Homo sapiens: one gene and its partners. The protein of the gene in region 3 interacts with the protein of the main gene of each other region in a pairwise test. Each region holds a gene or a part of one and is shown on either strand. Other genes may lie near its edges. The genes, in order: SUOX, ZNF438, ZNF143, TSC22D2, IQUB and EXOSC1.

Region 1 (3,154 bases), on a different chromosome or scaffold from region 3:
ATTAGCTGGGCATGGTGGTGCATGCCTGTAATCCCAGCTACTTGGGAGGCTGAGGCAGGAGAATCACTTGAACCCGGGAGGTGGAGGTTGTGGTGAGCTGAGATCATGCCATTGCACTCCAGCCTGGGCAACAAGAGTGAAACTCCATCTCAAAAAAAAAAAAAAGAAAAAATGAAGAAGAATAAGAAGAAATCACTTGAGCTCACCCTGACCCAACCCACGGTGTTGGCCACTGGGAAGCGAAGGTAGCAGATTAGCAGATTTCATCTCCACTGTGCATGAAGACTGCGTCACTGTGAACTCTGTGGTAACTACAAGAACATGGGTCACAGCCTGGGTTGCCTGTGGAGTTTACTAGGACTGATTCCTTTATTCTGACAATTTTTTTTTTTTTTTTGAGATGGAGTCTCACTCTGTCACCCAGGCTGGAGAGCAGTGGCCTGATCTTGATCTTGGCTCACTGCAGACTTAGCCTCCTGGGTTTAAGTGATTCTTGTGTCTCAGCCTCTCAAGTAGCTGAGATTACAGGTATGTACCACCACACCTGGCTAATTTTTACTAGAGATGGGGTTTTGCCATGTTGCCCAGGCTGGTCTCAAACTCCTAACCTCAAGTGACCCACCCACCTTGGCCTCCTATAGTGCTGGGATAACAGGCGTGAGCCACTGCACCCAGTCTGTTCTGACAATGAAGCACTTTCCCTACTTACCCTACACCGATGGTCCTGATAGGCCAACACTGCACCGAGACCTAATAGGGTCCCCATGACTCTCCATCCCTGGGTGCTGGAGTTATCACCAGAGAAGGTGAGGCTGGGGCGCTGGGGCTGAAATGAATCATTTGTGGAGCAGGCCTGAATGCAGATCCTTGAGGGGATTGACTTGAGTCTGGAAGAGAGGTCGGTCTTAGTAGCACGTATGGTCATGTGAAAGGGCTAGTGAAGGCTTGGGGTCTACTTCTTTCTCCCTGGTTGGCCATTGGTTCCTTAAGTTGGAACTTAGTTTCTCCAGGGATAGGTGGGAAAAGTGGGATCTGGCTTTCTCTGTCCTCCCTGGACACACTCTCTCAACTGTCTTATTTGCAAGGTATGACATTGTAAAAGACACTAAGGGTGGCAGATAGGGGCTAGGAGGCAAGTCCTGGGATGGGCTGGCCTACCTGCAGGCCTGTTGGAGCCTGAGGACCACAGCTCTGTGCAGCAGCAGCATTGTAGCAGACCTGTAGAAGGAAGATTCTGGGATCAAGATAGGGAGACCCTGGGAGGGGATATTAGGGAGGCCTAAGGGAATGGGTGAGAGGAAGACACAGAGAAGGTCAGCAAGGAGCTTTCTGGGCAAGTGAGGAGTCTTGAGAGTGGGAGTCCAAATGGGCCCTTAGAGAAAACTTGGAGCACTTCAGAGACAGACTGTGCTGACAGGATGGCAGGTAATGCGGGTGGGGAATGGGGTAGGAGGGATGGGTGCTTCTAGAATCAGAATCACCTTTCTCCCATCTTCCATTCTGAACTTTGTCCACCATAGAGAACGATGCCTGGGGCGAAGGGCCTAAAGGACCGAAACCAAATGTCTACTGGCCAGATTATTATTTCTGAAGTCAGCAGAGGACAACTGTGGGTCAGACTGACTTAAACAGGGATAAAAAAGTGAAAAAAAAGTAGTGACAGCCTAAATGGGTGAAGAAGCCCAGATTCTGGGGGCAAAATGCCTTGGGTTTGTGAAACTGGATCTCTTGTTATTCATTAACCAGCCCGATTTCCTGAGCAAGATTCCAAGCCGTTCTGAACTTGCTTCCTCATCTCTGAAATGACATCTGCCTAGCAGAGCTAACATGAAGAGCCAACAAGTACAGTAGTACCCCCTTATCCACTGGGGATATGTTCTACGACCCCCAGTAGATGTTTGAAACCACAGATTGCACCAAACCCTATATTACTGTTTTTTCCCCCATACATACATACCTCTTATAGTTTAATTACTAAATTACCCACAGTAAGAGATTAACAACAATGCCCGGCGCAGTGGCTCACGTCTGTAATCCCAGCACTTTGGGAGGCTGAGGCGGGCAAATCACCTGAGGTCAGGAGTTTGAGACCAGCCTGGCCAAAATGGGGAAAACCTGTCTCTACAAAAATTCAAAAATAAGCCAGGCATGGTGACACGTGCCTGTAACCCCAGCTACTCGGGAGGCTGAGGCAGGAGAATCACCTGAACCTGGGAGGTGGAGGTTGCAGTGAGCTGAGATCACGCCACTGCTCTCCAGTCTGGGCAACAGAGAGAGACTCCATCTCAAAAAAAAAAAAAAAAAAAAAAAAGAGAGATTAACAACAATAACAAAATAGAAAAATTAGCCCGGCGCAGTGGCTTACGCCTGTAATCCCAGCACTTTGGGAGGCTGAGACGGGCAGATCACGATGTCAGGAGATCGAAACCATCCTGGCTAACGCGGCGAAACCTCATCTCTACTAAAAATAGAAAAAAAAAAATTAGCCGGGCTTGGCGGCGGGCGCCTGTAGTCCCTGCTACTCCGGAGACAGGAGAATGGCGTGAACCCAGGAGGCGGAGGTTGCAGTGAGCCGAGATCGCGCCACTGCACTCCAGCCTGGGCGACAGAGTGAGACTCCGTCTCAAACGTCTCAAAAAAAAAACAAAGAAAAAGAAAAAAATTATAACATTATACTGTAATAAAAGAGCTGGGTGTGGTGGCTCACCCTTATAATCCTAGTGAGAAGTGACATTGTGCTGGCAGTCCTCACAGCCCTTGCTCACTCTCGGTGCCTCCTCTGCCTGGGCTCCCACTTTGGCGGCACTTGAGGAGCCCTTCAGCTCGCCGCTGCACTGTGGGAGCCCCTTTCTGGGCTGGCCAAGGCCAGAGTCGGCTCCCTCAGCTTGCAGGGAGGTGTGGAGGGAGAGGTGCGAGCGGGAACCGGGGCTGAGCGCGGAGCTTGCGGGCCAGCTGGAGTTCCGGGTGGGCGTGGGCTTGGCAGGCCCCGCACACGGAGCAGCCGGCTGGCCCTGCCGGCCCCGGGCAATGAGGGGCTTACCACCTGGGCCAGCAGCTGCGGAGGGTGTACTGGGTCCCCCAGCAGTGCCGGCCCACCAGCGCTGCGCTCGATTTCTCGCCGGGCCTTAGCTGCCTCCCCGCGGGGCAGGGCTCG
Region 2 (3,928 bases), on a different chromosome or scaffold from region 3:
GTCCAGGAAGGCCCCTTTCCCCCCACGGGCTCAAGAAGCACCTGCTCCTGCTGCCTGGCTTCTCCCTGCTGTCAGCACCTGCTCCAATCTCAAAGCAAGGCTGGGGCTGAGCCTGGGCTCTGCTGTAACCTGGTTGGGTGTGCACACGCTTGAGGCAGTGCTGATATGCCCACCTCCTACCCCATTGGCCTGCTCCAGACTTTGGGTGCCAATAAGCATGGAAGGGAGGCTGAGGAAGGGGTGCTCAGGACAGCTCGGTGCCAGCCTGCAGGTGCCCCCTCAGCATGAACAGCCTGGGTGCCATAAACAGAAGCAGGGAGCAAAGAAGCTCCTGGGCAGAAAAGGGGAGGTCCCCGGTGAAGCCCCACCTTCAAGCCAGAGAAGCCCTGAAGCCTGGGGGCCAGGTTGCCAGTCATGTGGACTGGAGTGGGAACTTGTGGTGCTTTTCTGGGTCTGTCCATGACTGCCCATGGACCAACTGCACGCATTTCCTCTCCTCTGAGGCACATAAAAGCCCCGGACTTAGCCAGACTTGAAGAGACAATGGGACGACCAGTGGCAGAGAGGAGCTACCCTCTCTGCTGAGAGCACAAGAGATGACGGGGAAAACCTGCCTGCAGAGAGGAACTGCCCCCTGCAGTTCAACTCTGAGCTGTTCTATCACTCAATAAAGCTCCTCTTCATCTTGCTCACCCTCTACTTCTCTGTGTACCTCATTCTTCCTGAACGCAGGACAAGAACTTGAGACCTGCCAAATGGTGGGGCTAAGAGAGCTGTAACACAAACAGGCTGAAACACGCCTCTTGCTTGCCACACAGCAGGTGAAGAGAAGAGCTGCGGCCCTTTGGGGAGCTCTGTCCTGGGAGCCCCCTGAGCCAGGGCAGTGACTCCCTAGTCTCCAAGCTTCTGGGCAACATCATGTTCCTGGTGCCAACCGTGGAAGCTGCTTGTGATGTGCCTGGTCCAGCCACAGCCTTGCAAGGAGGTGGCACCTGGAGCTGCCTGGCCTGCAGCAGCAGCCGGCGTGCCTGCCTATGCGCAGTGGCCAGACCCCACGCTCACTCACACATCCCTCACCACTCTGTGCCTGGCTCGCCCTTGGCAGGCATGGGATCTAGGCCGGTAGCATGAGCTGAGTGCAGCCTGCTAGGTTCCAAGTGGGTGGAACGAGCCTAATGGGCCAGAGCAAAACTCAGGCCAAGGCGCCACTGGCCACAGAGGTTTCCGGCTGGTGAAATGACACCCCAAGGATCCCATAGCAATAATACCAGGAAGCAGTGCTTGCAAAAAGGAATGACACCAGAAAGAGTGAACCCGAACTGATGGGAAAAACAGGGCAAATGAAGAGGGTGGGGTCTGGGCACCTTAAGGTAGGGTCAACATGACAGACCCACCCACTCTGAGTCCCCAACCATGGGTCATGCCGCATTTTGGGGCAAATGATGCTGTTTAAAATAACGCAAATTCTGTGGATGTGATTTTGGGGGAAATTACTTGTAAAGACCACTGGAACTATATACAGTACTTTACTAGATTGGTTAGGGTAATTCCAAGTATGGATGATCAGAAACCAGAGAGAAACAAGATCATTCTTCACAGATCTAGGAGGTATACATAGCTACTTTATGAAATCTTAATCCTAGAGATGTTTTATAAACTCTCCTTTCTGAATATGAAATCTTCCCCTCTTCCCCAAATCAAAACAGACTCTCTTGCCAGGTCTCCATTACATTGGCACTCACCTCTCCAATGATCCCTCCATGCCTCGCACACTCATGTCTCTGTTCTTTGGTATGTCTCCTGGCTGCAGTTCACTGGGCGCAGGCTCAGTGCTGATCACAACCCTATGCACTTCTTTCAGATGGCCAAAATAGACTCGGATGTGGCCAAACACTTTTGCACAAAACTCACAACACATGAGTTTCTTCAGACGGTTCTCACCATGATGAAGTTTCATGTGTGTGCTCAGGCTGCCAGGACGTACATAGGACTTGCGACAAATCCGACAACTGTAAGGGCGTCTGTTGGTGTGTGTATTCATGTGGTCTCGAAGGTGCTGTTTGAACTGGAAGTGGTGGTTGCAGACGTGACATCTGTGCCAAGGCTTCTTAATGCCAGAGAATCCATTTCTGAACACGGAGCTGGGCTTAGGGGAAGAGCTGTTGTCTTGCTTACAGCCAAGATATTTAGGAGTGAGTGAATTATTTAACAAAACATCCTGTCCTAGGCCCCCAAGCATCTGGGACTGTAGTGTAGTTGGAGAAGCCAGGGAGGCCAAAGTGGGTATGACCATGATAGGTTTGGGCATAATGCTACGGTATTTTTTCAGGGTCCCCAGCTTTTGGTCTCTGAATTCTTGGGGATCATTTTTTACTCTTTCTTTACCATCTCTACACTTATTAATGATATATTTCCTCCTTTTTCCCTGAAATGCCAAAATTTCATCTGGTACCTTCCGTTTTCTTCCTTTTCTCTTTGCTGCTCCACTGTTCAGTTTTGTTTTGTGGTTAAGATCAAGTTTGGTGGGTGGACAAAAGGCACTTTCACAGGCACTCTGCTGTGACACTTGTGGAACAGGTAGCCTGCTTGCCACCTTGGTGGCTGCATTAAAGCCTTCTGTGGTGGAGGGTATCTTATCACAGTCGGCCTTAGGTCCTGGTAAAGAAAAACCTGCAATGTTAGCATCTGATTTGATTTTGTAAACCTCCATTGTCTTCATTCTTGAGTAGGGTGGGATTGGCAGTTTCCCTTTGGGGACTGAAGAGATCAACTGAACTGCATTGCCAAGAATGGTTGGTGATAAATTGGTCATGGTTTTTGCAAGATCAACTTGTTCTTTAAATTTTTCACTGGCAACAGCAGAAGGTTTACTAGATGTTATCTTGCTTACAAAGTGTGCTTTCCCTGAAAGAGCTGTGAGGTCCTGCTTGGCAGGCTCCTCTGGTGTGGATGATGCTGGGGTAGCAGGAGGGTTCAGACTGCCATGGGTGTTGGTCACTGGTGGTCTCAAGTCCCCATGGTCACTTCCATTGGTCAGCGCAGCTGTGCTAATGCTGGCTGGGGCTTGCTCTAGTGATGGTACTTCCTCAAATGGACTGGGTTTGTACAGGAGTTCAGGGTGGTGAGGTGGGGAAGGGGACATCTGAGGACACATTTGGGTTTGGGCAGGAGCTTTGCTACAGCCACTCTTAGGAAAGATCAGGATGGGTTTCTTTCTTGATGCTTTGCTATTTCTAGGGGGTTGATATCTAGGAATAGGAAGTTTCAGGTTTTCAGGTAGGGACATTCTGGGTTTCTGAATTGGCTGAGCTGAGGCAACATGTGGCAGAGCAACAAGAGAAAATGTCCCCTCCTGGCCAGCAACCTGCATCAGGGCATAGTTCTGGGTGGACATCCCCAGCAGCTTGGAGTTGATGGAGGGTCCCAGATTCACCTGATCAGAGCGTGATGGTGAATGACATGGCAGCATTCTGGACGTTAGGACTTTGGGCACAATTTTTGGTGCAATGGTCCTAAACTGACTCTTATTCTGCAAACCTTTCCTACTCTGTATTGTTCCAGAAGGGATGTTTGATTCACCTGCAATGACAATAAAATATAAAGAGTTACTGTATGTAACTGTTCTGTTAGTGATACTTCAAACAACAAGCATCTTATTTACTCTGCCCAGAACAGATTCCTTGACCTACCTCCAAGCCTTCTGGGCAAAATCTTGTGTCCCTCAAGACCAGCTTGAAGATCAATTCCTGCCTACCTTCCCCAAGGATTTCTATACTTATCTATGGTTCCTTAGCTCCTATTATGTTATTTACCATTTTCCATAATAATTTATGTGTTTATGTGTATCTCTACTAGTCAACACTGCTTGACAGCGAAAATTCCGTCCTTCTCATCCATGTATTCTGCAAGTCCATCCTCTCCATTTAAC
Region 3 (3,928 bases):
GGATTTGGGGATTTTACTCTGAGAAAGTCCTCAGAAGGTTTTGAGCAGAAGCGGGACATGAGCTAACTTTTCCCTTCAAAGGACACTGACCGCTGTGTCAAAAGAAGAGTGTAGGAGGCTAATGGAGAAGCAGGGAAATAAGTTAGGATGCTGTTATAGTAATGCAGGTGAGAGACTGGTTGTGGCTTAGATCAGGGAAGTACTGGTGAAGGTTGTGAGAGGTAGCCAGATTCGGGGTAGATTTCTGAAGATTAAGTCAACAAAATATGCTGACACATTGTAAGTGGGAATCCTCAGCAATGCTAAACCCAAAGGACTCTAATTATGGGAATTCTAGAGATCATATGAAACTGATGGGCACAATTCGTCAGTGTACTTCTAAGTTGCTAAGCGCACTGACAAATTGTGCCCATCAGTTTGAATTGTTGAATTATAAGAAGCATGCCTTGGACTTTGGGCTAATACTCTTACCCTACATATTGAGTGAAATTTCATCTTATTTCCAACACCATTACATCCTCAGCAGCTTTTTGTGGTTCATAAATATTCTTTGTAACTTTCATTTCACATGTATCATTCTTTGTTCCCAAGTGTCTTTATTTTTCTTCAAGGTAGAAGATGTTGTTAGCCCAAATAAATCGAGATTCTCAGGGAATGACAGAGTTTCCTGGAGGAGGGATGGAGGCGCAACATGTTACGCTGTGCTTGACAGAGGCAGTCACCGTGGCAGGTGAGCAGTTGTGTTTGAAGGGATGCGTTTGAAAATATCATTTATCTTAAAAGAAAAAAAATTTACAACTTCCTAGTTCCTGATTTAGCAGAAAACAATATAAACCTAGGTCTTTTTATGAGGTGTTTTGGTGTTTTTTTTTTTGAAACGGGACGGAGTTTTACTCTTGTCGCCCAGGCTGGAGTGCGATGGTCTGCTCTCGGCTCACTGCAACCTCTGCCTCCCAAGTCCAAGTGATTCTCCTGCCTCAGCCTCCCGAGTAGCTGGGATTACAGGCATGTGCCACCACGTCCGGCTAATTTTGTATTTTTAGTAGAGACGGGGTTTCACCACGTTGGCCAGGCTGGTCTCAAACTCCTGACCTCAGGTAATCAACCTGCTTCGGCCTCCCAAAGTGCTGGGATTACAGGCATGAGCCATTGCGCCCAGCCTCTATGTGTATTTTTTATCTTGGTGTGGGTACAGGAGGGCAGGGAATTTTTTTTTTCTTTTTCTTTTTCTTTTCTTTTCTTTTGTTTTTTTTTTTTGAGACAAGGTCTTGCTTTATCGCCCAGGCTGGAGTGCAGTGGTATGATCACGGCTCACTGTAGCCTCAGCCTTCTGGCTTAAGACATCCTGTCACCTCAGCCTCCCAAGTAGCTGAGACTACAGGCACCCACCAGCGTGCCCAGCTAATTATTTTATTTTTAGTAGAGACAGGGTTTCACCATGTTGCCCAGGCTGGTCTCAAACTCCTGGGCTCAAGCCATCCACCCACCTCAGCCTCCAAAAGTGCTGGGATTACAGGCATGAGCCATTGTTCCCAGCCTGTTTTTGGTAAGTGCTAAATCTCACTTTTTTTCTTTTTTTTGAGACGGAGTCTGGCTCTGTCGCCCAGGCTGGAGGGCAGTGGCACAATCTCGGCTCACTGCAACCTCTGCCTCCTGGGTTCAAGCGATTCTTCTGCCTCAGCCTCCCAAGTAGCTGGGACTACAAGGTGCATGCCACCGCGCCCGACTAATTTTTATATTTTTAGTAGAGACGGGGTTTCACCTCATTGGCCAGGCTGGTGTCGAACTTCTGACCTCATGATCCACTTGCCTTGGCCTCCCAAAGTGCCGTGATTACAGGCGTGAGCCACTGCACCCGGCCGCTAAATCTCATTTTGAGTCTGAGTTAAGCAGTTTACCTTTTTTCTGATCTTTATTTGAAAAAAAAATTAATCAGCATGTCCATATGCTAGCTGTCTAAAGAAAATATTGATTTTTTTGTAATAGATGGTGACAACTTAGAAAATATGGAAGGCGTAAGCTTGCAAGCAGTAACACTTGCAGATGGTTCTACTGCTTACATACAACACAATTCTAAAGGTATGTGCCTCACATATGGCTGATTGGTTAATACCAGTGATTTATAACCTGTGAGTTGGAGCACCTAGAAGCTATACCACCTTTCCTATGTCTCCTAAAGATGCTGTATTGCATATGATGATTTTAAGTCATTTCAGTTTAATTCTTTTTTTTTTTTTTTTTATAATTTGGAATAGTCCTTTGAGATATTTGGAAGATACCCTGGGATATCAAAATTAGTGGGAGAGAGGAGAGCAGGGAGTATGTCTTACTATTTTCTAGTAAGACCTTTCTTGCTTCTTTACCTTGGGTCATTATTTCGTATTTTTACCAAATACCTGTAAGAGTAAAGACATTTGGGGCCGGGCATGGTGGTTCACGCCTGTAATCCCAACGCTTTGGAAGGCCGAGGCGGGCAGATCACCTGAGGTCGGGAGTTCGAGACCAGCCTGACCAACATGGAGAAACCGTTTTCTGTAATAAAAATACAAAATTAGCTGGGCATGGTGGCGCATGCCTGTAATCCCAGCTACTCAGGAGGCTGAGGCAGGAGAGTCGCTTGAACCCGGGAGGCAGAGGTTGCAGTGAGCCGAGATCACGCCATTGCACTCCGGCCTGGGCAACTAGAGCAAAACTCTGTCTCAAAAAAAAAAAAAAAAGACATTTGGTTTTGCTTATCTGACATTGTCTCTGAATTAGTGTTTGCTTTGCTCCAGGAAACAGCCAAGTCCTCAAAAACTCTTTGTTTCTATGGAAACCTACTGAGCACATGCATACATAAACAGGGGTCTTATAGCCCTCAGGGATGAGAATGACAGATGATCTCACATACACTGACATAATCTGTCTGTCTTCCCAGCTTCAACTCCCCACTGGTCATGGTCACTGATTCTAAGTGACTCTGAAAGGTATAAAGCAGTCCAACTCATGTAGCCTGCTGTGATGAGCCACTCTTCCTCTTGACCTCATCTAATTGAAAATTGCAGGGGAGGAAGGATGGCTGAGGGAGGATTTTCTGCTTTCTGTAGGATCACTGGATGTGTTATTGAATTGCCTCAGAACATTGAGGGAAGAATCAAGATGAACACGAGCTTAAGTTGTGTATGTTTTTATAGTTGATATCATTTTGAAATTGTATAAAGTTTAAAATTTTTGTTTGTGCCAATTTATTGTCTTGAATCTTTTGTTATAGATGCAAAACTCATAGATGGCCAGGTCATTCAGTTGGAAGATGGTTCTGCGGCCTATGTTCAACATGTACCCATACCTAAAAGTAGTAAGTATTTAAGATAACAGCACGGGAAACCATTTTAATTCTCAGCTTTTAGTATTTGCTACCTGCAGCTCCCTCTTACTACCTAAACTTGGTCTTGTTCTCAAGTCCTCCTTCTGTAAAGGGAGATTATAGATGCCACAGAGTGGATCTTAACCAAGACTTTCTCGTAAAGATAATGGAAAAGAAGTTACTGGACTGCACTGTGGAGATAAATGAGTAACAGTCCTGAGTGAATGTTTCTGTTTTTTGAGCTGAATCTTACATGTCTCTCATTTTCTTCATTTTTCCCCTTCTTTCAACTCTCTTTAATACTGGTGTATATTTCTAAAACCAATATTCTAATGTCTTTTTACCTTTAAACACTGACGCAGGGAAGCTTTACTGAACTTACTTAAATGTTCAAAGACTCATGAAGCAAGTATAGATTGTTATAATGTGTTAATGGTTTATTGACTCTTGTTGCTAAGTGAGTTAATTGGAATGTGCTAGAAAACATGAGATCTAAATGTAAGCATTGTTCTTGAGCAGGGGACAGTTTGCGTCTAGAGGATGGTCAAGCAGTACAGTTAGAAGATGGTACCACAGCATTTATTC
Region 4 (3,928 bases), on a different chromosome or scaffold from region 3:
ACACTAATCTGAAATATTTATACTACCACCATTGTAGGGTACCGGGTATATATACTTTGTGCTGGAAGTAAAGACAGGAAGCCTTTTCTTAGGGAGCTTAAGTTTGGAAACTGGTTAAACCATCAAAATATAATGTGCTGAATATAATAATTAAAAAGAAAACAAGGTATATAGTATTATAACATTAGGTGAAGGAAGGAAATTATTGATTCTGCTTCAGTTGATCTTTCTCATTTTAAAAGAGTCAAATCTCACTATGATAACTTTGAACATAATAGAAAACATCTTGATACCCTCATTGAAACAGTATTTTTAAACCATATTCTGGGATCTTGAAATAAAATAGTCTCTTATTTGCTTAAGACTACCATATTGGTATCTCCATCGTAAATATGGCTAAAGCAGTGGTTCTCATACTTTAGTTTCTATCTGAATCGCCTAGAGAGTTTGTTAAAATAGATTACGGGGCCCCGCCCCAAGAGTAAATCTGGGGTGGGTCCAAATATTTACATTTCTAACAAGGTCTTGGTGGGTCCAAATATTTACATTTCTGACAAGTTTCCAGGTGATGCTGATGATTCTGGTTCAGGGACTACACTTTGAGAACTGATTTATCTGAACTCAAAAAATTTTAATGCCTTCCTCATATGAACCATTAATTGTTTCAAATCTATCATATCTAATTACTATCAGTATGCATTGAGTTACTATGTGCTAAGCACTGAATTCACTTATTCACAAAGATGAAGAAGTTATGGAACCTTTCTCAAAGAGCTCAATCTAATAGGATCAACAGTGGTAGTATTACAATACTCAAAGTAATCACTGTCTGTATTGAGTGCTCAGTGTGCCAAGTACTATGCATTATGTAAACTCATTTAATCCTCACAATTGGCATATAATCCTTATTTTAAATGAAAAAACTGAGGTCTAGAAAGGTTAAATAATTTCCCAGAATTCATATAGTGAGTATATGGAGGAGCCAGAATTTGCTATTCTGCCTTTTTGCACTATAAAAAGTTTGCGAAGATTGGTAGACCCCAGAAAGGATGGAGTAATTGGCTCTACCTTAGAAAATCAAACAGCATCACAGAAGAGATGGCACTGGAGCATCTTAAGGGACAGGTCTAAGATAGCCAGATGAATTGGAACTGTGAGCATTTCCAGCTGAGGGAGCAGTTTCTGCAAAGCCAAGGAAACCCGAGAGAACATATGTTCCACAGACTACAAATAGTTGTATAAGACCATAACACAATAGGCAGATGGAGTATAAGAGGAAAACAGACTGTATAAGGCAGAGGTCAAAGTCATAAAGAATTTTATATGCCAGGCTAAAAAGTTTTAAAAATAGAATTAGGCTTCTTAATTTTTCCTCCTATAACTTTCATTTGTAAGCCAGCAGTTCTCAAAGCATAGTCAGACAGTAGATTCCACATCATCTGGGAACTTGTTAGAAATGCAGATTCCTGGTTCCATGCCTACTGAATCAGAAACTCTGAGTGGGGGAGCCCAGCAACCTGAGTTTTAACAAGACCTCCAGATGATTCTGGTGCATGCTAAAGTTTGAGACCCCTGCAGTAGGTTATAGAATTCTTGAATAATAGCCTTCAAGATAGTTAAAGGTCACTATAGTGGTAGTAATTATATTTGACACTGATTTATTCTATTAGAGTACAACACCTAACAGTTGAAATATTAACACCATTTAAGGGATACATCTTCATCATGATCTATTTATACCTTGCAAACCTGTTTCTTCTGTTGTCATAAAAGAGATCTTAGGACAAGAGTTTGTTAGGTCAGCATTCAAAGAATAGCATGCTAACTATTCTTCCTTAGCTATGGGAATCATTCTAAAACTCGCTGACTGATTTTAATTATCAAAAAAAAACCCCAGTAATTTTTGTTTTTTTTACTGCTTGTTAATACATAAAACTGATGTTGTAGTTAGTATTTAAGGTGTGCTATTTAAACCAAATGTGTTGAAGGAATCAAATGATTTAAGTCATGACATGACTTAAAAGTAATTCAATCTTTCCTTGTCATGTCAATAAAAATATAGAAAGTATAATCTGGGATTCCCAAGCAAACTAATTTAAATGCCTGTCACCGTCTTTTTTGCCAAAATGTGTTCAGTATTTGTGGTGAATATGTCTGCATGGTATCTGGCACTGAAGTATATACTAAAGCGTTATGGTTGACTTAGTGGTTCTGTAGTTTATAGTTACATATAGTCATACTTTGCACAGCTCACTAAAAGCATTTAAAGCCCAGCACATATAAAGTATTTGTTAATGATCCATAAATCCTTTCTAGATATTAGATATACAAAACCTCTTTTCATCTTAGAAATAGTAGCAGCAAGAAGTGAAGGTAGTATGCTGTAATTAATGTGGTTAATGCTCAAATAAACAAACGTAGTTTCCCATGTAATGATTCAAGATTTCAAGGATTTAGAAGTGGAAAGTCCATTGAGGCATTGACATCAACCCCTTGTTTTACAGATGGGGAAACTCAGATCCAGGGAAGTTAAATAGGTGATTTGCTGATGTCCCATAGGAAGTGAATAGCAGGATATCACAGGACAGGATATTTCTGAGCCTCAATCTGATACAACATTATGGGTCCACACCATCTAAAGTAAAGTAGTTTCCAGGTATTTTAGCACTAAAATCTTAGGTGGAGTATACTTTATGAAGAATATTTAGTAACATATAAAAAATTATCTTTTCGTATTGATACAATAAGCTACAGTATCAGATTTTTCTTTACAAGAGTAATTTTTAAAAACCTAATAACTGTTTTTAGAAATAAAATTCATTAAAAAACAATAAAAGGGTATAAATTCCAGCTATTCTTACTACTTAATACATGGTAGAATATAAACCACCAAAGAGGACAATTAGCCTTCTGTGTTATTATCATACAATTGCTAAGGTGATATTTGAACTTGGAATGTGCTTACAGGCTGGATAACTTTTCAGTTATTCCCAAGAAGAACTGATCTAAACCACACATACCTTATAGGTGATTTTTGCCAGCAAGTAACCTACAGTCAAATACATGTAGGTCTGCCAGAATGTTGTTTCTTTTTGTTTTTTTTTTTTTTGTTTTTTTTTGAGATGGAGTTTTGCTCTTGTTGCCCAGGCTGGATTGCAATGGCGTGATCTCGGCTCACTGCAGCCTCTGCCTCCTGGGTTCAAGTGATTCTCTTGCCTCAGCCTCCTGAGTAGCTGATTACAGGCACCCGCCCCAAGCCTGGCTAATTTTTTTTGTATTTTTAGTAGAGATGGGTTTTCACCACGTTGGCCAGGCTGATCTGGAACTCCTGACCTCAAGTGATCCACCTTCCTTGGCCTCCCAAAGTGCTGGGATTACAAGCGTGAGCCACCACGCCCGGCTGAATGTTGAGTTTCTTGTTAACCAATCCTACCCAAAGACTTTCTGAACCATTTTTAGAAGCCATTAAGTTTTTTTTAAAAAACTAGATGTTAAAGTATAAAACTTATACCAGAAAAGTCTTACTAAGAGGAGGGACTAGAAAAAAAAAAGTCAAGCCATCATCTGAATTTTACTACAATAAGTAATTATTGGAATTTCTACATGAAAGGCAATTAGAATGTATAGTTGGTTAATGTAGAAATTTAAGAGATACGGAGAAGACACTGCCCATTTAAAATGTATCCTTTTAAAACCACTGAACAGAGAAATTCTTAATACAATTGAGAGTTAGTTTTAAAGTAGCATACATGTATTACAGGCAAATTAGAAATGTTGGCACTACAAAGGACCTGTAGAAATCATCTATTTACTGAGACTTTCATTTTAGAAATGAGAGCTTTGAGTACTGAAATTGTCAGAACAGAATAAGCTATTTTAAATTACTGTATATTTGGTTTTAAGTGAAACACAAATGTCTTTTACATTC
Region 5 (3,928 bases), on a different chromosome or scaffold from region 3:
CCCAGTTGGAGCTTCCCAGCTGCTTTGTTTACCTAAGCAAGCCTGAGCAATGGCGGGCGCCCCTCCCCCAGCCTCGCTGCCGCCTTGCAGTTTGATCTCAGACTGCTGTGCTAGCAATTAGCGAGACTCCGTGGGCGTAGGACCCTCCGAGCCGGGTGGGGGATATAATCTCCTGGTCCGCCGTTTTTTAAGCCTGTCGGAAAAGCGCAGTATTCGGGTGGGAGTGACCCGATTTTCCAGGTGCCGTCTGTCACCACTTTCTTTGACTAGGAAAGGGAACTCCCTGACCCCTTGCGCTTCCCAAGTGAGGCAATGCCTCGCCCTGCTTCGGCTCGCGCACGGTGCACGCACCCACTGACCTGCGCCCACTGTCTGGCACTCCCTAGTGAGATGAACCCTGTACCTCAGATGGAAATGCAGAAATCACCCGTCTTCTGCGTCGCTCACGCTGGGAGCTGTTGACCAGAGCTATTCCTATTTGGACATCTTGACTCCTCCCCGAAAAAAATACTTTTAAAATAAAGCATAATATTAGCAAATACTTATACCAAATTATTTAATTCTCACAGATGATATCATTATGCCCATTTTACAGATAAAGAAATTAGCACAGAGAGGTTAAGCAATATTTTCAAGAACCCAGAGCTAGTAGGCAGTATATCTGGGATCCAAATCCAGGCAGTCTGGATCCAGAACCCATGCCCTTAACCACTTAACTGTGCTGTATCTCAGTGTAGGAGTCCATGGGGGATTGGGAGGAGAACAGAAAAGGGGTCCTGGTGATGAAGAAAAAGTCTAGAAACTGATCTCCCTGCAGATGAAAAAGCTAAGACCCAGGAATGCCTCATGGTAGGTTAGTGGTAGTCAGATCCAGAATTTAACTAACAATTTTGCCATCAGATATATTATCAGAGAATGTCTTTTATTCTTAAGTGACAAACATGACTATGATTTAAAATAGAGTAAAAAATATTCAGCAGATTTTTTTTCACCCATCTAGAACAAGGAGCTAATTTTATTGGTTCCTAATACCCCCTCATATGTACATATTAATATGCTCTACTTGCATACATATGTGTAAACTCTCACTGCAGCAAATATTAAATGTAAATAACAAAGTACACATATTAAAAGTGTGAAATGTAAAATGTGATCTTCCAACCCAGTTTGGAAAGCTACAGTTGGAAAAGACTTTTCAAAATCATTTTTTCATTATTGTTATCATTCATTTTGTTGTTGTTTTTAAGAGAGTAATATGTGCTTACTAGAAAAAAAACTAACAGAATAGAAGGGGATAAAATAAGAAGTAAAAGTATTTCAGACATGCTAATTTTATTTCTCATTGTTAGGCAGTTTATCTTTCCAGGAATTGTCTATAAAGCTACAATTATATAATATATATACATTTAAATTTGTTTATGATCATATCAATGTCTTTCATAAACTATATTTCTGTTTATTTTTAAACTTTAATACTATTTTATGACTTTTTATAATACGTGCTTAACATTTATTTTTATGTAAAATACGATTCTGCCGCATTCTTTTCAACAACTTCACAGTAACTTCTTTGCAAGGCTAAGCCACATGGTAGTCAACTGTTGTTCATTGATGGACATTTAAGCTGTCTCTAGTGTTTTTTTTTTGTTTTAATAGGATAATTTATTTTTTAAGAATCAGTTTTTAAAGTTATGTTAAAGATCGAACTTTTAAATGCATGCAATTATATATAAACAATAATCTATATTAATTTTTAAATTTTCTGCTGGATGCAGTGGCTCATGCCTGTAATCCCAGCGCTTTGGGAGTCTAAAGTGGGCGGATCTTGAGGTCAGGAGTTGGGAGGCCAGCCTGGCCAACATAGTGAAACCCTGTCTCTACTTAAAAAAAAAAAAAAAAAAAAAAAAAAACAGGCTAGGTGCGGTGGCTCATGCCTGTAATCCCAGCACTTTGGGAGGCTGAGCAGACGGATCACAAGGTCAGGAGATCAAGACCATCCTGGCCAACATGATAAAACCCTGTGTCTACCAAAAATACAAAAATTAGCTGGGCGTGGTGGCATGTGCCTGTAATCCCAGCTACTCGGGAGGCTGAGGCAGGAGAATTGCTTGAACCAGGGAGTTGGAGGTTGCAGTGAGCCAAGATTGCACCACTGCACTCCAGCCTGGCGACAGAGCCAGACTCCATCTCAAAAAGAAAACAAAACAAAATACAAAAATCAGCTGGGAGTGGTGGCAGGAGCCTGCAATCGCAGCTATTGGGGAGGCTGAAACACGGATCACTTGAACCTGGAAGGCAGAGGTTGCAATGAGATGAGATCATGCCACTGCATTCCAGCCTGGGCAACAGAGCAAGACTCCATCTCAACCGGTACAGTGGCTCACGCCTGATCGAGACCATCCCGGCCAACATGGTGAAACCCCGTCTCTACTAAAATACAAAAAATTAGCCGGGCATGGTGGCAGGCACCTGTAGTCCCAGCTACTCGGGAAGCTGAGGCAGGAGAATCGCTTCAACCTGGAAGGCGGAGGTTGCAGTGAGCTGAGATAGCGCCACTGCACTCCAGCCTGGCGACAGAGGGAGACTCTGAAAAAAAACAAAAAACCAAAAACAAAACAACAACAAACAACAACAACAACACCAAAAAACCCTCCAACTCAAAAAATAAAAAAATTTAAAAAAGCACTTTTTAATTTTCAGGGAAAAAAAATCTAAGGCTGGTGTTCACAATGTCAATTTTATTTATGGTTTGTTCTCACTATAAGCTTCCCTGTAATCCATTTCTACCCATTTTTTACTCTGCACAAACTTTTTACCTTTTTGCTCTTTGATTTTTTTTTTTTTTTTTTTTTGAGATGGAGTTTCACTCTTTTTGCCCAGGCTGGAGTGAAGTGGCGCGATCTTGGCTTACTGCAAACTCCACCTCCCAGATTCAAGCAATTCTCCTGCCTCAGCCTCCCCAGTAGCTCAGATTATAGGCACCCCCCACCATGCCTGGCCAATTTTTGTATTTTTAGCAGAGACGGGGTTTCACCATGTTGGCCAGGCTGGTCTCAAACTCCTGACCTCAGGTGCTCCGCCCGCCTCGGCCACCCAAAATGCTGGGATTAGGCTGCTCTTTGAGAGCTTTACAAATTTATTTAATCCTTACAATGACTCTGAGGTAGATCTTCTTGTCTCTGTAGATAGGAAAACTGGAACTGTCAAGAAACTTGCTTAAGATCACAGAGTGCATTAGGTTCGGATCCATAATCAAATTGGAAAAAAAGAAAAACACAAAGAACAATTAAGACTCCAAAGCCCTAATGCATAGTCTTTGTATCCTATCACACTGTGGCATTATATATATAAAACAAAAAACTTTATAATAAAGAGAAATGTATTTTCCAAACTGTGGTTCTCCAGATAACAATGTGTCTCCGTGAGGACCATATAGTAAATACATCCCATAAAAAATGATTACCAACCAAAAGCTTGCAATTAATGTTCCAACTAAAGAAAAAGACTCAAAGTAAAAGCATCAGCTATCCTAGGTACTGCTTGGAGGCAACACCAAACACGACACATAAATCATTGTTGAAAAAAACCGTAAAACATAATGCTGGGTATTTAGTTATGTTGAATGCTAAAACTAATCTTTCCTTAACTAAAGGTCTCCGTCAAATGAAAAGTGTATTTTAGTCAAGTCAGGATTTCTGTTTTGCAAACTCAAAGTCTTATATTATTAAGCATATATTCAGGTTATTTATTTTCCTGATCATAATTTTCAAATCAAATTAAGATCAAACTCCACTGACCGTCAGGTACTGTATATTCTCATTTTGATAAATTTCAAATTAATGATAAAAATGTATTAACCTGCTGGTCAATTATACATTTTATAAATATATTTTAACCAATGACATATTATCAGTAAGTACAGATTCAA
Region 6 (3,928 bases), on a different chromosome or scaffold from region 3:
CCTCCCAAAGTGCTGGGATTTACAAACATGAGCCACCATGCCTGCCTCACATGCTATCTGTATCACCACGTGTCCTCAAATTTTCATTAAATCACAATGTACCTAAATGAAGGGGACGTATGTAAAGCACCTGACTCAGTGCCTAGCACAGTAAGTACTCAATAAGCAGAAGTACTGAAATGTCCTGACACCATTTAGATGTCTTTCTCTGCTTAAGACAACAGACTCTATAACATCCTTTTAGTAAAAAAGTTTTATCATAGCAAAAAATATGTATTTATAAGGACTGTCAGGAGGGATAGGCTATTTCCAATATCACAGTTTTGTTTGTTGGTGCCTTGAAAAGATAAGATTTATTACTCAAGAGAATGAAATCCACTGATAGGTTCACAGAAACATGTTCCATCTACAGCGTAAACTGGAAGATTTTTCTGGAAGTGGCTGTTGGCCGACGCCAGGTGTTTGAATAAAGACAGCAGCATCTTGGTGTTATACTCAGGAACAGCTTACCCCCTTCCATAGGGTAAAAAGTGGCTTCTTAGGTCTGCAAGAATTCGGGTTGTACTCGGGCTACTTTCCGGAATTCTTTAGTGTGGGTCTTAGGGCACTGCATCTCACACCAGCTGATGGGAACCATCTGGATACCTGGAAGGGAAAAGCTGGTGGTGGAGCCCAGACCCCAAAGATTTGCCTGCGACTCCTCTTTTATGCTGGGTATGAAGCTGAAGTGCCACCAAGCTTCCTACTGAACCTCAACTCATAAAGAAAAAACTTTGTTCATTCTACTGACTTATGAAGTGAGTCCCGTTTCCTTGGATTTATATAAGGAGAATCAGGCTGGGCGTGGTGGCTCACACCTGTAATCCCAGCACTTTGGGAGGCCAAGGCGGGCAGATCATTTGAGGCCAGGAGTTTGAGACCAGCCTGGCCAACATGGCGAAACCCTGTCTCTACTAAAAATACAAAAATTAGCTAGGTGTGGTGGCGTGTGTCTGTAATCCCAGCTACTTGGGTGACAAGAATTGCTTGAACCAAGGAGGTGGAGGCTGTGGTGAGTGGAGATGGCACCACTGCACTCCAGCCTCCTCGACAAAGTGAGACCCTGTCTCAAACAACCACCACCACCAGCACCAAGCAAAAAAGAAAAAAATAATCATTCTAATCTCAGAGGGAAATATCTATAGCCATACTGCTTCCCAGATAAGGGAAACCAGGAAAAACAATGGATTTATCCCAAACCATAGATCCAGGGAAAGTAAGGATGTGGAAACAAGGCCATCTCACCTGACTCACTGTGGGCTACCACCACTCCCAGCTCGTTCTCGGCGGTGGTTAGCAGGTAGTTGGACTGTGCATCACCTAAGGAGATCTAGTCACATAACACCGGTGAAGGAAAATGAGGAGTTAGAAGTCTTCCCCCACCTTAGCCACCTGAGTTGTTTTTCTACCTTTTTTTTTTTCTGAGATGGAGTCTTGCTCCGTTAACCAGGCTGGAGTGCGGTGGCGTGATATCAGTTCACAACCTCTGCCTCACAGGTTCAAGCGGTTCTCCTGCCTCAGCTTCCCGAATAGCTGGGATTACAGGCATGTGCCACCACGCCCAGCTAATTTTTGTATTTTTAGTAGAGACAGGGTTTCACCATGTTGTCCAGGCTGGTCTCGAACTCCTGACCTCAGGTGATCCACCCGCCCTGGCCTCCGAAAGTGCTGGGATTACAGGCATGAGCCACCACACCCGGCCTCCTTCTCTTCTTTTGACAAAGGACCAGAAGTCTGCTGGGAATAAAGGATACCACTTTGGCCAAGACAATGTCACCTGGGCGGAAACTCTTATAAATTTCAACCTGTAAAGAAAGAACAGGAATGTTAAGTGAAAGCTCTAGACTGGGTCTATATGAAACTGTGAACGCTTCTGGTAAAGCCAATCTACTTTCTAATCCTGGAGGGTAGAAATCATCATTACTCATGTCAAGTCAAGAACTTTTAATTGCTTCTACAGTATTATCATACAAATGAAAATTTTTTTTTTTTGAGATGGAGTCTCGCTCTGTCGCCCACACTGGAGTGCAGTGGTGCGATCTCGGCTCACTGCAACCTCTGCCTCCCGGGTTCAAGCGATTCTCCTGCCTCAGCCTCCTGAGTAGCTGGGATTATAGGTGCATGGCACGACACAGGCTAGTTTTTATATTTTTAGTAGAGACGGGGTTTCACCATGTTGGTCAGGCTGGTCTTGAACTCCTGACCTTGTGATCCGCCCACCTTGGCCTCCCAAAGAGCTGGGATTACAGGTGTGATCCACTGCACCCGGCCCTTTTTTCTTTTTTTTTAAGAGGTGGGATCCCACTGTGTCACCCAGGCTGGAGTGCAGTGATGCAATGGTAGCTCACTGCAGCCTTGGACTGCTGGACCAAGGGATCCTCCTGCCTCAGCCTCCCAAGTAGCTAGGACTACAGGTGCGTGCCACCACTTAACCTCAAACTCCTGGGCTCAAGCAATCCTCCAGCCACATCCTCTCAAGCAGCTGGGACTACAGGCATGAGCTACCATGCCTGGCCAATTTTTGAATTTTTAAAATTTTTGTAGAGACAGGGTCTCGCTATGTTGCCAGGGCTGGTCTTGAAGTCCTGGACTCAAGTGATCCTCCCGCCTCAGCCTCCCAAAGTACTGGGATTACGGGTGTGTGTGACCATGCCTGGCCTGAGATAATACTTTTAAGGGATTGAGATACGTAAAGCCATTAAAAAAAAAGAACCAACCAACAACCTTGTCTTTTTCAGTTGCTCGGACATCTTCCTTGCTATAAAAAAAGAATTAACAGAAAGATTAATTACCTGTGAGAAAGAATTTTTTTTTTTTTTTTTTTTGAGACAGAGTCTCCCTCTGTCACCCAGGCTGGAGTACAGTGGCGCAATTTTGCTCACTGCAACCTCCGCCTCCTGGGTTCAAGCAATTCTCGTGCCTCAGCCTCTCAAGCAGCTGGAATTACAGGCACGTCCGCCATGCCCAGCTAGTTTTTTGTATTTTTAGTAGAGATGGGGTTTCACCATGTTGGCCAGGCTGGTCTTGAACTCCTGACCTCAGGTGATCCACCCGCCTCAGCTTCCCAAAGTGCTGGGATTACAGGCATGAGTCACCTTGCCCAGCCTGTGAGAAAGAATTATTCTGTAGATTCCTAGTAAATAAAGAGCTACAAGAACAGACAGAACAAGTTGTAAATGGGACACAGCTGCTACCCAGAGGAGCAGGGTGGAGAAGCATCCTCAGACCACATGGAGAGGCAGTATCAATACCTCTGATTAGATAAAGGCAGATCGGATTTGGCAAGAAAGGATAAGGAATTTCGTTGCCTCAGGGCTTGAACAGAAGCACTATAGCAAGGGCCCCCAACTTCTGGTGGCCTGTGAGGAACCGGGCTGCATAGAAGGAAGTGAGTGGCAGGCAAGCTTCATCTGTATTTACAGCTGCTTCCCAATCGCATACATTACTGCCTGAGCTCCGCCTCCTGTCAGATCGAAGTGGGCATTAGATTCTCATAGAAGTATGAACCCTATTGTGAACTGCACATATGAGGGAGCTAGGCTGCCCACTCCTTATGAGAATCTAATGCCTGATGATCTGTCACTGTCTCCCATCACCCCCAGATGGGACCATCGAATTGCAGGGAAACAAACTCAGGGCTCCCGCTGATTCTATATTATGGTGAGCTGTATAATTATTTCATTATATATTACAGTGTAATAATAACAGAAATAAAGTGCACCATAAATGTAATGCACTTGAATCATTCTGCAACCACCCCCTCCATGGTCTGTGGAAAAACTGTCTTCCAAGAAACTGGTCCCTGGTGCCAAAAAGGTTGGGGACTGCTGCACTACAGAACCACATCAAATCCTGAGGCTGGAAAGGGCCTCAAAAGTTAGATTATCTG

The links.
Region 1: the proteins of ZNF143 (region 3) and SUOX interact in binary tests that used the Homo sapiens proteins (3 or more experiments, as listed by UniProt).
Region 2: the proteins of ZNF143 (region 3) and ZNF438 interact in binary tests that used the Homo sapiens proteins (3 or more experiments, as listed by UniProt).
Region 4: the proteins of ZNF143 (region 3) and TSC22D2 interact in a two-hybrid assay, tested with the Homo sapiens proteins (one study listed by BioGRID).
Region 5: the proteins of ZNF143 (region 3) and IQUB interact in binary tests that used the Homo sapiens proteins (3 or more experiments, as listed by UniProt).
Region 6: the proteins of ZNF143 (region 3) and EXOSC1 interact in binary tests that used the Homo sapiens proteins (3 or more experiments, as listed by UniProt).

The regions. Positions count from the first base shown.
Region 1 is NC_000012.12:56,000,276-56,003,429, reverse strand, and holds part of SUOX (sulfite oxidase, mitochondrial), read right to left. Parts: intron 1,219-3,154; 5' UTR 1,209-1,218; coding exon 1,159-1,208; intron 888-1,158; coding exon 710-887; intron 1-709. UniProt on the Homo sapiens protein: Catalyzes the oxidation of sulfite to sulfate, the terminal reaction in the oxidative degradation of sulfur-containing amino acids.
Region 2 is NC_000010.11:30,846,789-30,850,716, forward strand, and holds part of ZNF438 (zinc finger protein 438), read right to left. Parts: intron 3,580-3,928; coding exon 1,743-3,579; intron 1-1,742. UniProt on the Homo sapiens protein: Isoform 1 acts as a transcriptional repressor.
Region 3 is NC_000011.10:9,470,691-9,474,618, forward strand, and holds part of ZNF143 (zinc finger protein 143), read left to right. Parts: intron 1-611; 5' UTR 612-615; coding exon of another isoform or gene 616-618; coding exon 619-730; intron 731-1,985; exon of another isoform or gene 1,986-1,986; coding exon 1,987-2,079; intron 2,080-3,086; exon of another isoform or gene 3,087-3,159; intron 3,160-3,250; coding exon 3,251-3,334; intron 3,335-3,859; coding exon 3,860-3,928. UniProt on the Homo sapiens protein: Transcriptional activator. Activates the gene for selenocysteine tRNA (tRNAsec). Binds to the SPH motif of small nuclear RNA (snRNA) gene promoters. Participates in efficient U6 RNA polymerase III transcription via its interaction with CHD8.
Region 4 is NC_000003.12:150,453,086-150,457,013, forward strand, and holds part of TSC22D2 (TSC22 domain family protein 2), read left to right. Parts: intron 1-3,928. UniProt on the Homo sapiens protein: Reduces the level of nuclear PKM isoform M2 which results in repression of cyclin CCND1 transcription and reduced cell growth.
Region 5 is NC_000007.14:123,527,842-123,531,769, forward strand, and holds part of IQUB (IQ motif and ubiquitin-like domain-containing protein), read right to left. Parts: intron 511-3,928; exon of another isoform or gene 404-510; intron 1-403. UniProt on the Homo sapiens protein: Adapter protein that anchors the radial spoke 1 (RS1) complex to the A microtubule of outer doublet microtubules in axonemes. The triple radial spokes (RS1, RS2 and RS3) are required to modulate beating of the sperm flagellum.
Region 6 is NC_000010.11:97,435,907-97,439,834, forward strand, and holds the end of EXOSC1 (exosome complex component CSL4), read right to left. Parts: intron 2,798-3,928; coding exon 2,764-2,797; coding exon of another isoform or gene 2,757-2,763; intron 1,845-2,756; coding exon 1,794-1,844; intron 1,370-1,793; coding exon 1,285-1,369; intron 646-1,284; coding exon 539-645; 3' UTR 3-538; downstream 1-2. UniProt on the Homo sapiens protein: Non-catalytic component of the RNA exosome complex which has 3'->5' exoribonuclease activity and participates in a multitude of cellular RNA processing and degradation events.